Linked DNA regions of Homo sapiens. The protein of the gene in region 1 purifies or fractionates together with the protein of each later gene. This does not show direct contact. Each region holds a gene or a part of one and is shown in the gene's direction. Other genes may lie near its edges.

Region 1 (4,258 bases):
ATTGTTTTCTGCGAAGGATTCTCAGTTACACGGATGTTATCATTGAACATTAGATACTTTGCTTTCCGAATGGCTGCCTCATTAAGAATCGCAATTTAGCTGGATGTGTCCTCATCGGACTTCCCCAGCCTTCTACTCACTCTCACCTTGCCCCTACTCTCCCTACCTCCCAAGGGGACTGGAGCATGATTTTTCAGGGATTGTGGTGCACCTCTGCCATATGGTGGACATTCAAAGAAAATTTAATTACTAATGTGAATGGAAAGGATTTAGGAAGTGGGTGGGAAAACAGTCTCCTCTCATATTGGAAATACAGTTACTTCCCCTTTCAAAATAAATATAAGTATTTATATTTCAAAGTTAAATATAACTAGACGATAGTTGTACCCTATAGTGCAGTATGACAGGGAAGGTGTAGGCTTTGGTGTCAAACCAACCTAAGGACTGAGTCTCAGCTGTTGCGCATTGCACACCTGCAAAGACGGGTAATATTCTTTACTTGTAAGGTGGTTGGAAGAGCTGAACTGAATAACGTGGAAAGAGTCGATCACAGGGCTTTGTGCAGAATAGGAGGGCAGTATAAAGTAGCAGGGGGGCTATTAGTACTGGCTATTGTTTACTCATCCTATAAGCTGCTTATTCAGAAAACTACAGTAACTTTCCAAATAATTTGGGCAGGAAAACCTCACCACCTTTCATCTAGAAAGATCTAATCACTTCTTTGAACGCCATTCACCCAAGAGGGCACAACTCCTACCAACATGAAAAGCAGATCTTGTGAAAGCCCACTTGCTGCCATCTCCCAGCCATTTCTCCGACTTCAGACCGGTGAACATCGTGCATTAGAAAGTGTTGTTACATGTCCAAGGAAATCTACATATAGAACTTTTGCCACGGAAATGCTGAAGTCCTATTCTGACAGCGTGACTCCGATGTCCACTTGGCAGGCTTTGCGCAAAGAATTAAGGCGAGGGTGGAGAGGGTGGGTAGGGTGGGGACGGACAAAGTGAGAAGGGAGGCGGGCCAAGTGACCACACGTACATGAAGCCTCTCCAGTTATGGCCAAATCATTTTTTAAAAATAATTCCATTTCTTCCCCACCCTTTGGTCACTTCCTAACGCCGGCTGGGGAGTCACATGCTAAGCTCCAAAGTGAGCAACAGACACCCTCGTCCCAGGTCCCATGCTGGCAGAAGCGGACCCGGGCCGAGGGATCAGCCCTCCCACTTCCAGCGGAGGAGCCCTTCGCAACCCTAGCCTCCAGCCCGGGGCGAAGTCCTCCAGGCCCGCGGGGGCGCCCGCAGGCTCCGCCCCTTCTTCGGCTAGCTGCCCGTCCGTCCCGCCCCTGCTCCGCCCTTCCCGCCCCTGCTCCGCCCATCGCGCGGCGGCCCCGGGGGCGAGAGGGGGCGGAGCGTGGAGGCGGCAGCTGGAACCGCGCAGCGCACGGGAACGCGTCCCGCTGCTTGGGTCAGGTTCGCCGGTCGCGGGAGCCCCGCCGTGCAGTCGGAGGTGAGTACCGACGCGGCCCGACCCACGTCCCCAGGCGGGAGCGCCGTCCACCCTGTATCCCTCGAGAGTCGGTGCGGGCCTTTACCGAGGTGCCCGAGGCAGTGGCGGCACGGGGGACACGGAGGCGAGCTTGGGGAGGCTGAGAGGAGAATCGGGGACGTGTTTCTGGCGACTGACGTCTCCACCCTGTCCCCAGTCTATGTCATGCCGGGGAGAGAAACCAGGGATTGGAAGTGGCTTTCCTAGACCCTTCTTAGCCTTGGCTGTGCGTGCTGTCCTGAAAGTCCTTGCCTAGGGTGTGCGGCCAGTCCTGGGAGTCCTAACCCCGAGGGTGTGAGGCCCGCACTGGGAGTCCTCGCCCAGGCCCGGCTGGCTGGATAGGGAAACCCTTGCTAAAGTTGTGCGGGCAGATCCGGGAATCCACTCCAAGGGGTAAAGGGAAAATGGGATGAGGGGGAAGAGACCCTTCGTGGGAGGCTTGAACACAGAGCCCACCATGATAGATTCAGAGATCTAGAAAGGAGCTTGGGCTGCAGTTATGACCAAGTCATTTTTTTCTAGATTCAGCTAGCACATCATAATGGCATCTTCCTTCTTGCAACACATGTAACTCTCTTCCCTGGGGGACAACCTCTAGGACAGAAGTCCCCAAACTTTTCTGGTACTCAGTACTCCTTTACACTCTTAAAAATTAGTATCTTAAGGAGCTTTTATGTGTGTTATATCTATCCATATTTATAATATGTAAGTAAGACTGAGAAATTTGTACTATAATAATTCATTTAAAAAGAATAGTGAACTAATTATATCTTAACATTGCCTATTTTTATGAAAAAGAACTATATTTCCCAAAACAGAAAATGATTGAGAAGAGTGGCATTGTTTTACATTTTTGCAAATCTCTTTGATGTCAAGCGTAATTGAAGACAGCTGGATTCTGATAGCTGCTTCTGCAGTCTGTTGCAATATCACATATCATGTAGCCTCTTGAGACCTCCACTGTATACTCCTGAAAATGTGTGAATGAAAAAAAGCAAGTAACATTTTATTACTAGGAAAATGGTTTTGACTTTGGAGATCCCTAGGAGTTCTCTGCACCACACTTTGAGGATGCTGGTGTAGGAAATGCTTCAGAGGCTTCATTCATTGGGCCTGCTTCTTGTTTGTGATCCTTCCTCTGATTGGGAACACACACCACCTCATGCCATGGACAGTATTAACCTCTGGTATCTGGAACCAAGTTTGATCTCACTTTGGAAACCATGTACTAGGTCCCCACGTGAGGCTGTGATGAACCTTGCCAGCCTCCTGAAAAGTCAGCAAGGCTTCGCACATGCCTTTGGTTGTCTCTGTGCTTGCAGAGCTGACCTGTCTGTGCATCAGGATTACAACAGTGATGTGGCAAACAGGACCTGTAGGCTCACAAAAGTGCCAGTGGGGAGACCATGCCAAGTGTGTAGGGGTTCCTGTGAGAGTTACCAAGTAGTCAGGAAGTTATTTCCAAAAGAACAAGGAGGCATGCTTTTGCCTTCCCTTGCACGTGTTCATTTCTGTTTGCAGTTGCATGGTTATTAGCCTTGAGTTTATTGGAATAATGATTTCCAGTCTTGACGTTCTTTCACTTTCCACTTTCAGAGGGTGTCACTCTGAGTGGTGCTTCCTCAGCCCCTGTCAAAAAGCAGTTTCCACCATCCTGGAGTGTGGTAGGTGAGGTCCTTCACGGGACTCTTTCCTTAGCTTCGTGCCTTGTCAGAACAAGTTCAAGACAGATGTTATGTGTATATATTTGGGAGGAAGAAATTTTCTAACTCCATCCTCCCTTTTGTTCCTTCATCCATAGAGCCTCTTGTGCTCTGATGGATCAGTTTAAATGCTACAGCCGATACTTGAGAAATGTTGCATGCACATGAGCGTGTTGTGTGTGTTGCACAGTCCACAGGTGAGGAGGAGGAGAAGTCCACAGGAGAAGGAAATGGGATCTAAACTCTGAGCACCTGCTGTGTTCTTTGTATTAAAAAATTCCACTTTGATGGTGGGGTCTCATTCCTTCATTCTTTCAGTAGATTTTTATTGGCCACCTATTTCTCATGTGTCCAGTTATGTGCGGGATGCCAGGAAAGTAGTGAGCACAAAAGATGCAGTCCCTGTCTTTCTGGCAATTATGGTCTGATAGCTTTGATAACTGCTGGTTAATTGAGATAGTCTATTATATAGTCAGAGTGTGTACATGAAAGCTGGTCCTGTGTGAAGAGCAGTACCCCCTACCTAAAGTGTGCTTCAAAGGCATGTGCTGAAGAAACCAGTCCCACACTGTGAAGATGATGATAAAAACCAACGTGTATCACCACGTGCCTGGCAAAGAACTTCCTTTGCCTTCTTTCCCCCACTCTTCCTTCTACATAGGAAGTAATTTCCTGTGAGGCAGCCAGATTCACAGGGAAATTACCTCCAACCTGGTGCCAGTCACTGGGCCAGCCTCGGGTTAAGACACTTTCTCTGGGTCTCAGTGTCTTTGACTTTAAAATGAGGAGTTAGGCCATTGATAGTAAGTGTCCCAAGGAGCCAGTGGTTTCAGAGCTGGTTTATACTAGCATTTGTGCATATCTCTTCCTAACTCCGTGTTCAGTGGCAACACATTTTTTAGATTGAAATAAGCCATGGTGGGAATAATAACACCATGGAAATTGGCAAATGCTACATCAGAGCTTTTTTTTCCTCTTGGAGTTCAAGTTGTTAAACCTTTGCCAGC
Region 2 (3,101 bases), on another chromosome or scaffold:
ATCGTGACTGTACCGTAGCCCCTGAGAAAACCAGTGCGGCTCCTCACAGCCCTCAAGATGATTTCCGACCTTGCCACCTAAAGTGTGGCCCGTGGACCAGCAGCATCAGCATTACCTGCAGGTTGCGAGAAACGCAGCACCCCAGACCCTCCCCATCCACTTGCGTCCAAAGTCTTCTCTATATTAATGAGAGGAAAGGACGACTGAAGACACAGTAGCAAAGCTCATCACTGTGACTTGTTAGGAGCACTCATTCTCTACACCCCCTTCCCATAACTCCTACCTACCTCTTTTGGTTTTTAATTAGGACATTCACTTGCATTTAAAAATACCTGCAAGATCCCCCCATCCCCCATATCTCCACTGTCTACTTCTCGTTCTTCTTAGATGACGTGCTGCTCTCGCCTCTTCCTTCGCTTTCTCTTGCACCGCAACACTTAGTTATTATCCATGCCACGGACCTTCAAGATACCTCTGTGCAAGGGCAGACTGAAGACCGAGCAAATGGCATGGAAAACAGGACACCTCAGATGGACGGCGCGGCGGTCCTTGGTGACAGAGCACTGCTCTTTAACACATGCTGTAGTAATGACATGATCGCCTTCTGTCCGGGGCCTTCACTTCGAAATAGAGCACTAAGATCGGGGAGGAAAACCATGAGGATGTTGACCCCTGGCTGCTCTGTTTGCTTAAACAGCAGTTACTCACCCCGAATTACCCATAGATAGTGACCAACTGGTCTGAAATCCAGATAGAGTTGCTAATGATCAGCCCTTCCTTCACCCATTCCACTTGTTCTTAAAAATGTATCACTCAGGAAATGCTTTACAGAAAAACTGTGGCAAGACCCTTTGTTGCAGAGGAAAGACCTGCTCTAGCCCCAGAGGATGGCTCCAGCATCCACCTGGGACAGTGGAAACATTGGGCATTAAGACACTTAATAAAAAGGACACTTTAAAAAGAAGGGGGCAGGAAAGATAGAAGGCAGGAGGTGCAGGCACTCAGACAACTGCCCTCGACCCCACCCGGGATGGGCCACGGACAGGTGTCTGCATTGCCCTGAATGCAGCGCTTTTCCTACCCCAGCATAGACGGCGCCCATTTCTGCACTGTTCTAAAACCCCTTCCCTATGCGAGAATCAGTTCTAAGGGAAGGAAGCCCTCTTAGGAGAGGAGGTACTGGGCACACATCTGACAGCTCTGCCACCAGCAGGCAGGCGTCACCCAGCTCAGCACAGCCCCGAGTCCCAGGCTGCAGCCTCCTGTGCTGTTTCAGAGGGGAGGAATGGGTGTGTGGATCTCTGTAACTTCTCACAGTGAGGGAAACGGGGGTTGGATGGTGCTCTAGTGGCCGGCTTTGCCCCGCAGTGCAGTTGCCGGAAGGGAGCAGCCCTGGGATGGCCGACGTTTGTATTAGAAATGTTAGGAAATGTTCCTTCTGGCCTTTCCCAGGGGCTAGAGGGCCACGGTTCCTGACCTGTGTCCTTTCTTTGCCTTCAGGTCCACATTGGCCAACTGTATTCAACTGACAAGCTGATCATTGAGAATCGAGACATGCCCAGGACCTAGCAAGCCGGGGACCAGCCACCAGTGGCGGCCAGGGACCACCTTCAGCATCCACTCTCTGTTTGAGATGGGGGCTCCCAAAACCAGCTTACAATAGCCTTTTGCGCTGCCTGTCCTGTGGGAGCTGATAAACCAAGTCACATTTGCATTCTGTTGCAGGCTTAGTGAAAAAGGACTGCTGTCTTTCCTTGGTTCAAGTGTTAGAATGGAGAGCTGGAGTTCGTTCAGAATAGTGCTGTGTGTTACCACGTCTCCCCTGCACCCCATTCCTACCTTGTAGCTCATGACCATTGTGTATAGCATTTCTACACTTTGTTTCTTGGTCCTTGGCAATAAAAAGAATGATCTCCCTGAGCCTTTGACCCCAGATAAACCCCTCCCAATTAATGCATTTTCATTTCCTACTGATACAAGGCCTGGAGAGGGCTGTTGGGGGCCCTCAGGGAGGGTTCAACTCTGAGACGAGAACTGCCTTGGTGAAGGCAAGTTCAAGCACCACTTGAGACTGGGGGCAGCATGGAGTAGGGCAGGGCTACGGGGATACACGGTGCACCCTGCAACTTATACCTGAGCCCAGTACAACAAAGGTGACGGGTGTGTAGGTACACACCCAGAGATGGAGCACTGCAGATCAGCAACCTCAGCCCCACCTGGGAATTTGCTGGAAATGCAGGCTCAAGCCCCTCCCCACACCTGGTGAATGAGAGAGCCCCAGCCTGACCCAAGCCCAGGGCGACTCCCATACCCTGAAGCCTGGGGCATGCTGGGCAGCACCGGTGCCCAAATCTGGCTGGTGGACAGAAGCACCTGGAGAGTTGGAGAGCTTTTTAAAAAGACATCTCTCAGCACTTCCCTCTCTGCAGATTCTGACTCAGTAAGTGAGGGGTGAGGCACAGTCATTTTTCTCTATTCTGAAGCTCTCCCACTGTTTTCAATGTTTAACCAACTGGGGACCCCTGCTCTTTAAGTATATTACAGGTAATAAAGATATTGTTTGTATGCTTTTATTCTTGGAAACAGATTCATTCCAAACATAGAAAGAACATATTAAATAACTTGCTTGTCATCTGGGGAGTTTACGAGGGACCAGACCTGGCAGAGCGGTTTCTTGTTTCCCTTTGCATACAGTGCTCAGTGGATTTGGTATCTGTGGGTTAAGGTTTGGAACAGGCTCCTATAAATAGCACCGGTCCTGGAATAGCTGCAGCACTGTCACCCCCTCATTTTAACTCCGACGGTCATGGGAGTGAGTACGCACTGTCTGAGCCCGTGTTCTTCTCACCCTCATATGAGAACTCATGTCTTCCAGTCGCTTTTAGAGAGCATAGATTTGCTGCAATGATGCGTTCAAATAGATGTAACGTGTAGCCATTCTATTTGGCAGTACAACTTTTGATTTCAGGATAAAGTCTTTTTTTTTGAGATGGAGTCTCGCTCTGTCACCCAGGCTGGAGTGCAGCGGTGCGATCTTGGCTCACTGCAACCTCCACCTCCTGGGTTCAAGCCATTCTCCTGCCTCAGCCTCCCGAGTAGCT
Region 3 (3,082 bases), on another chromosome or scaffold:
GGCCCTCACCCAGCCAAGGTGGATGTAAGGAGGAGAGGCTGGTTGTGGTCCAGGCACAGACACAGTCTCTAGGGAGCATTCCACGCCTGCAGAGAGCAAGTGGCCCAGGGACCTTCGCCCAGTGATTATATGAGGCTTTTTCCAGGGACATTTCTGCCTGTCCGCAGAGTTGAGGGCCCTGCACTTGATTGTGGAGCTGGAGGGTGTGCAGTGTAGGCCAAGTGGGGCAGCTCATTGTCCCCCAACACAACAGGAGCTCCCGGATCAGGGCAAGTCAGGAACATGATGGAAACCAGGTATGGCCAGGACCTCAGGATACCTGGGTTCATATCCTGATTCCATTACTCGCTTGTTTGCTGACTTTGGACAAGGAGTAGACTCTATTTTTTTTTTTTAATTAAATAAGGGGATGGGACTAGATTGTGTCTAAGGATCTATAAACCTGACCACATATATTAGGATTCTTTATATTGTAAGAGACAGAGACCAAATTAAAATTAGCATAAGCAAACAAAGGGAATTAATTGGCCCATGTAACAAAATTATCTGGTTTCTGGCATATCTAGATTCCTCTCTCTCTCTGAGCTTTCAGCTTCTTTCCCTGTGTTGGTCTCCTTTTCTCCTGCTAAAGATGGGCTTTCTCTCCTTGGTGGGAAACACAGTCCATGGCCACCTCCAATTAATTTCATAGCATGTTGGCCCAAGAAACAAGGCTCCACTCTCAGAAATCCCAAGGGAGATTCTAAGTGGCCCAATTTGGGTCATGTGCCACCTCGGTCCAATCATAGGCTGGGCCAGTGGCACATAATGACCTCAATATCAGACCAATTGGTGGTTCCACCAGAATTATACAATAGAGTGGAAAAGGAATTATTCCCCAAGAGAAGGAGATCACTAAAGAGACTAGAAAAGAAAAATGTCCACTCTAGTATGATTATCAGATTTTGGCCTAGTATAAAAGGACCTTATTTCTTCCTCTGTACTGATTATAAACTTGAGCGGTCCAAGCCCCACTCTGATTCTGTAACCTCACTTTCTCCCAGCACTACAGGGGCCAAATATCTATTTGACTCTGGTAGTTCCTTCAGATTTGGGCTCTGACACCATTTGTAGCCTTAAAACAAGTCCCATAATTCCTTTGAAACTTTATTTCCTGCTCTGACCATTGGGGAATTTGTGCTAATTGGTATGATTTTAAAGAACTGCTCATTTTAAAGAATGCTTGATGCTCGAAATAACAAAACACAGGAAACAGCCTAAAAGTTCGCTAGGGGACAGGTTGAAAAGTTATAATGCATTCATATAATGGAATACTATGCTGATGCAAAAAAGAATCAGGACACCCATATATGCCTAACATAGAAAGATCTCCAAGATAGATGTTTGGGGGAAGAGCAAAGTGTAGAGCAGGGGTGTCCAGTCCTTTGGCTTCCTTGGGCCACAATGGAAGAAGAATTCTCTTGGGCCACACATAAAATATACTAACACTAATGATAGCTGATGAGCTTTAAAAAAAATTTCAAAAAAAATCTCAAAATGTTTTATGAAAGTTTACGAATTTATATTAGGCCACATTCAAAGCTGTCATGGGCCGTGGGTTGGACAAGCTTGGTGTAATGTGTTTGAAATTTTAACCATTTGCGTTTTAAAAGGTCATGGGGTGAAATATATTAGCTTGAATATGCCTGGTGAATATGCATTTTTAAGTCCCTGTAAAGATACACAAGAAACTGGCCAGGTGCAGTGGCTCACGCTTGTAATTCCGGCACTTTGGGAAGCCAAGACAGGCAGATTGCTCCAGTCCAGGAGTTCAAGACCAGCCTAGGCAATATAGTGAGACCCTGCCTCTACAAAAAATAAAAAAATTAGCCAGGCATGGTGGCATGTGCCTGTAGTCCCAGCTACTAGGGAGGCTGAAGCAGGAAGATTGTTTGAGCCCAGGAGGTGGAGTTTGCAGTAAGCCGATATCGCGCCACTGCACTCCAACTTCGGCGCTAGAGCGAGACCATGACTTAAAAAAAAAAAAAAAAAAAGATACACAAGAAACTAACAACAGTTCTTTTGGGAACAAGGGTGGAAACTGGGGAGATGGACAGGTATAGGAGGGAGACTTCCCTGAATGCCTTTTTGTACCTTTGAATCTTTAAATCATGTTAGATATTATTGATTTAAAAAAAATTGTTTTTCAAAAAAAGGAAAAATTGCTTAAACAAAGCACATACAAAGTCTCCTTCAGATGCAGAGCTGTATAAAAATACTCTCAGAGAATTACTGTAATCAACGTCAAATACACAAAAACTGATGATGCTGTTTTCTTACTTAGGCACTAAAAGAAGAAATCAAAGAGATGCATGGATTGCGGATATTTACCTCTGTCCCCAAACGCTGACCACGCCCTGGCTGCATAGATGCTGCTGCTTAAGACCTTGGATGAACTTCACTGACATCATTCTTCCCTAAGCAGTCACCAAAAAATTTATATATTTTGCTCATATACATTTCCATATTATAATTATAGAAGATGTATAATCTATTTAGATGTTAATTAAAGGAAACAAACAACTGAAGCTTTTGAAGGGTCATTAGTAATGTTTCAGGTTCCTTTATTTTGGCCAAAGGGGTCTTGTCTTTAGACAGTTCTGTCCTGCTACAGAGAGAGAATGCAGTGCCAGCTTTTTGTCTTTTGAAGAGGTTTTCCTGTTTCTTCCCCTCCACGAAACTGCTCAGGCCTCTTCATCTTACTGAAACAAAGAAAAGATCCTTTACTATTGCTGTTCTTTTCGTTTATCATTCTTTTCTTCCCCCTCTAAACTTCTTACATGAATGATCTTGGACCCTCAATTTCTTATGCTCTGAAATGGACTCTGAAAATTTGGGGGTGCCAGGATCCGGGTTCTTTTCCTGTGTTTGAAGATCCTCCACCCTTTGATTCTTGGTAGGAGGCAGAGCCCACCTCCCACGACAGAAGCTGAAAAGGCTTACTTTCCCTGCCTCCCTCACAGCTGAGGCACAGGCAGATATTCCAGACTCAGCCAATCAGATGGACCTGCCCTGAACTTGGGAGCAAGTCACACCGAGGAGC
Region 4 (3,569 bases), on another chromosome or scaffold:
TTTGGAGAGGGCATACTCATTCCGTTGCTCTGTGAGAATCATTTTTCATTTCAACATTTTCCTTTCAGTCTTTGTCTGCTTACATATAGCTATCAGAATGGCAGTTTTATCATCCTTTTTCATAAAACATTATAAGCATTTTGCTCTGTTATTATATTTTACAATGAAAACTTTTAATGAGTGTGGACTTTTCTATTTTGTGAATGTCCCATAATTTGTTTGACACTTGCCTTCACCCCATTAATTCTTGTGAATTGTCTATGTCTGTTATTTTTTTTGGTCTTTGGTATGAAAAAAATTTTTTGTAGGCAAATTTGTGTGAGACGTTGAAACTCTTTGTAAGTTTCAAAACAAAAACAAAAAAAAAATTTTTCTTTACAAAGCCTGCCATGTTGATCTGAAAATTACTTCCTCTTTACTGGTCTGTACACAGAACTCAGATAATAGCTATTCCCGTTATATTCTTCCCAGGTGTGTTTTTGTTGTTTTTTGTGGGGGTTTTTTGAGGCAGGGTCTCACACTGTTGCCCAGGCTGTAGTGCAGTGGTGCAGTCAGCTCACTGTAACCTCCAACTCCTGGGCTCAAGATCCCCCCGCCTCAGCCTTTCAAAGTGCTGGGATTATAGGATTATGGGCGTGAGCTCATCCTGGCCAGACGTGGTTTTTTTTCCCTTGAAATAGCTATTTTGGTCTCATGATAGCGTGTACCTTCTGAGTAATTGGGTTTTTCTTGACGTTTATTTGATAGATATGATCGCTTGCTGGAGACCTGCTCTATTGCCCTTGTGGGCAAATACACGAAGTTCTCAGACTCCTATGCCTCTGTCATTAAGGCTCTGGAGCATTCTGCACTGGCCATCAACCACAAATTGGAAATCAAGGTAAGGAGGGTGGCACAGGTACAGCCAAAGGATGAGCAGGGAAGCAGTCTGTAGTCTCGTAGGTGCTGTGTCATATCTGCTTTCTGTTTGGAGCTCAGAATTACTTTTTAAGGAATTACTTTTTAAGGATTAAAAAGATTTGTGGTTGCTTCGTGGCTTTGAGAAGACAGTAGAGCATTTTCAGGAATTAATGAAGGGGAGAGATGGCTAGAGGAGAGGGTGAGAGAGACTTGAGTTCTTGGCTATGACTATCAGGTAACCAAATAAAATGCCCTGTGGAAATGGGGACCACTGATGGACCACAGGCATGCTGCACAGTTGATAGCTGGAGGCTCTTGGAGACTTTGTTGGCATGTGGGCTGCCTTTCCTAACCTGTGCTTATCACTTATTGCAGAGTGGGAATGACAGTATTGACCTCACGGAGCTGTGAGGTTTCTCTGGGATGCAGGGCAGGCACTCAGTAAATGGTAGTTACTGTGTTCTGGTCTGTGCCATGGCGGGCAGCAGCTGAGCTGGTGGAATGGTGGGGCATGGCCCTGCTTGTCTGTGGGTGGCAGTAGAGTGTCATGGTTAAGAGCATGGATGCCGTGGCTAGGCGCGTTGGCTCATGCCTGTAATCCCAGCACTTTGGGAGGCCGAGGTGGGCAGATCACGAGGTCAGGAGATTGAGACCGTTCTGGCTAACACGGTGAAACCCTGTCTCTACTTACAATACAAAACATTAGCCAGGCATGGTGGCATGTGCCTGTAGTCCTAGCTACTTGGGAGGCTGAGGCAGGAGAATTGCTTGAACCTGGGAGGTGGAGGTTGCAGTGAGCCGAGATTGCACCTCTGCACTCCAGCCTGGGCAACAGAGTGAGACTCTGTCTAAAAAAAAAAAAAAAAAAAAAAAAAACATGGATGCCTGAGCCCGGTGACCAGGGCTCAGATTCTAGCTCTGTCATCTACAAGCGGTGAGACCTAGACAACTTACTTAACCCTCTTTGTGCCTCAGTTTCCACATTGTTAAAAAGGGATGGTGATGGTGCCTTCCTCCTAGGGTTGTTGTAAGAAGTTCATGAATACAAAGTGCTGAGAATTATGCCTGGCATATGGTAAGCACTATGTCAGCTGTCGTTAAACCCTCCCTTCTGCCTGTCCCCTTTATTCCTTTTCTTCCTGGCCCATCAGCTGAAGCTTTTCAGGAAGAGATGAAGGTCAGAGGTAAAGTTGGGGCTCAGTGCTGAGGTTGTTAAACAGGCCCCATGTAGCTGTCCCCACATTGGGGTTTGCTTTCTACTTCCCAGGTGTTTCTCAGCGTGAGAGTTTAGTTTGCTTTGTGCTGCTGGACAGGTTCCTGCAGAATGGCCTGTTGTACGAGTTTTAAGAATTTAAATCCCATTACACAGCCCTGACTTCTTATTTGCTAGTTCTTTCCATCATTCATTTATTTTATCCACTTGGAGTTAGTCTGTGGCTGCCATGTGTTTGTCAGGTGGCAGAGGATGAGAGATGGATGAAAAGGCAACGGTCTCCGCCTTTAAGGAATATTGAGTCTCTTAGGAAGGAAGGAGCACATAGGAGAGGCTGAACCTGCTGTGGCAGACACATGAGGAAGGCAGACTTCCTCATGGAGGGACACCAGGTTGGGTTGGGTAGGATGGAGAAGGCTCGGAAGGGGCATTCCTGTTAGAATAGATAGAGCACGTCCAAGGGCTTGGAGATGTGGAGCAGTTGGAAACACTGTGGATGGAAATTGTGAATTGGAGGCTGTCTGGAGACAGGCTGGTGAGGGCCTGCCCACAATTCCATGAACTGGGCCAAATCTGGGTCTTACCCTGAGGTTCAGGAAACTAACTGCAGGGTTTAGGTAGGAGATTGTAGAAAAGTGGTGAACACCCTAATTTAAAAAGTGGGCACGAGATTTGAACAGACACTTCCAAAAAAAGATGTAGGTGATAAACACGAAAAGGTGCTCAACACCTCTAGTTAGGGAAATCAGTGCAGATGAAGTCACAATGAGATAGTGACACAAACCCCCTAGAGCGGCTGAGTGTTAGAGAGGCTGTGGAGCTCTTACCTTGCTGCCGGGAGTGTAAAATGGCACCACCACACTAGAAAACAGTCTGGTAGTTTCTTATCAAGGTAGAGACGTGTGATCCAATAAGTCCATTCCCAGATACTCACTTGAGAGACTTGAAAACGTCCACAAAAAAAGATTTTTATTCAAATGGACAAATTATTCGTAATAGCTGAAATCTCGAAACAACCCAAATATTTATAGCCTGTCAATGGATCAATTTGTAATGGTTTATTTATATAGTAGAAACCACTCAGCAATGAAAAGGAAGAAACCAGGCTGAACACTGACTGGCTCAAGCCCATAATCCCAACACTTAGGGAGGCTCTGCTGTGGGAGGATCGCCTAAGACCAGTAGTTCGAGAGCAGCCTGGTCAACATAGCGAGACCCCCGTCTCTGCAAAAAAAAGTTAAAAAAGAAAAGGAACAAACAACTGATAAACACAGCAACATGGATGAACTTCAAAAACACTAAGCAAAAGAAGCCAGACACAAAAGGTTATATACTATTTGGCTCCATTTATATGATGTTCTATAAGAGGCAAAACGAATCTGTGATGATAGAAATTGGATCTGAGGTTGTTTGGGGTAGGAGGTAGAGGGGCACATTCTGGGAAGATGGTAACTTA

What was found.
Region 2: the proteins of ACO1 (region 1) and LYRM4 purify together in Homo sapiens (co-immunoprecipitation; one large-scale study listed by IntAct). This does not show direct contact.
Region 3: the proteins of ACO1 (region 1) and BOLA3 purify together in Homo sapiens (co-immunoprecipitation; one large-scale study listed by IntAct). This does not show direct contact.
Region 4: the proteins of ACO1 (region 1) and CTPS1 fractionate together in Homo sapiens (co-fractionation; one large-scale study listed by BioGRID). This does not show direct contact.

What each region holds. Positions count from the first base shown.
Region 1 is NC_000009.12:32,383,227-32,387,484, forward strand, and holds the start of ACO1 (cytoplasmic aconitate hydratase), read left to right. Parts: upstream 1-1,416; 5' UTR 1,417-1,509; intron 1,510-3,144; exon of another isoform or gene 3,145-3,216; intron 3,217-4,258. UniProt on the Homo sapiens protein: Bifunctional iron sensor that switches between 2 activities depending on iron availability. Iron deprivation, promotes its mRNA binding activity through which it regulates the expression of genes involved in iron uptake, sequestration and utilization.
Region 2 is NC_000006.12:5,107,891-5,110,991, reverse strand, and holds the end of LYRM4 (LYR motif-containing protein 4), read left to right. Parts: intron 1-1,500; coding exon 1,501-1,569; 3' UTR 1,570-2,573; downstream 2,574-3,101.
Region 3 is NC_000002.12:74,134,900-74,137,981, reverse strand, and holds the end of BOLA3 (bolA-like protein 3), read left to right. Parts: intron 1-2,323; coding exon 2,324-2,389; coding exon of another isoform or gene 2,390-2,460; 3' UTR 2,461-2,582; downstream 2,583-3,082. UniProt on the Homo sapiens protein: Acts as a mitochondrial iron-sulfur (Fe-S) cluster assembly factor that facilitates (Fe-S) cluster insertion into a subset of mitochondrial proteins. Probably acts together with NFU1.
Region 4 is NC_000001.11:40,996,647-41,000,215, forward strand, and holds part of CTPS1 (CTP synthase 1), read left to right. Parts: intron 1-747; coding exon 748-880; intron 881-3,183; coding exon of another isoform or gene 3,184-3,186; exon of another isoform or gene 3,187-3,569. UniProt on the Homo sapiens protein: This enzyme is involved in the de novo synthesis of CTP, a precursor of DNA, RNA and phospholipids. Catalyzes the ATP-dependent amination of UTP to CTP with either L-glutamine or ammonia as a source of nitrogen.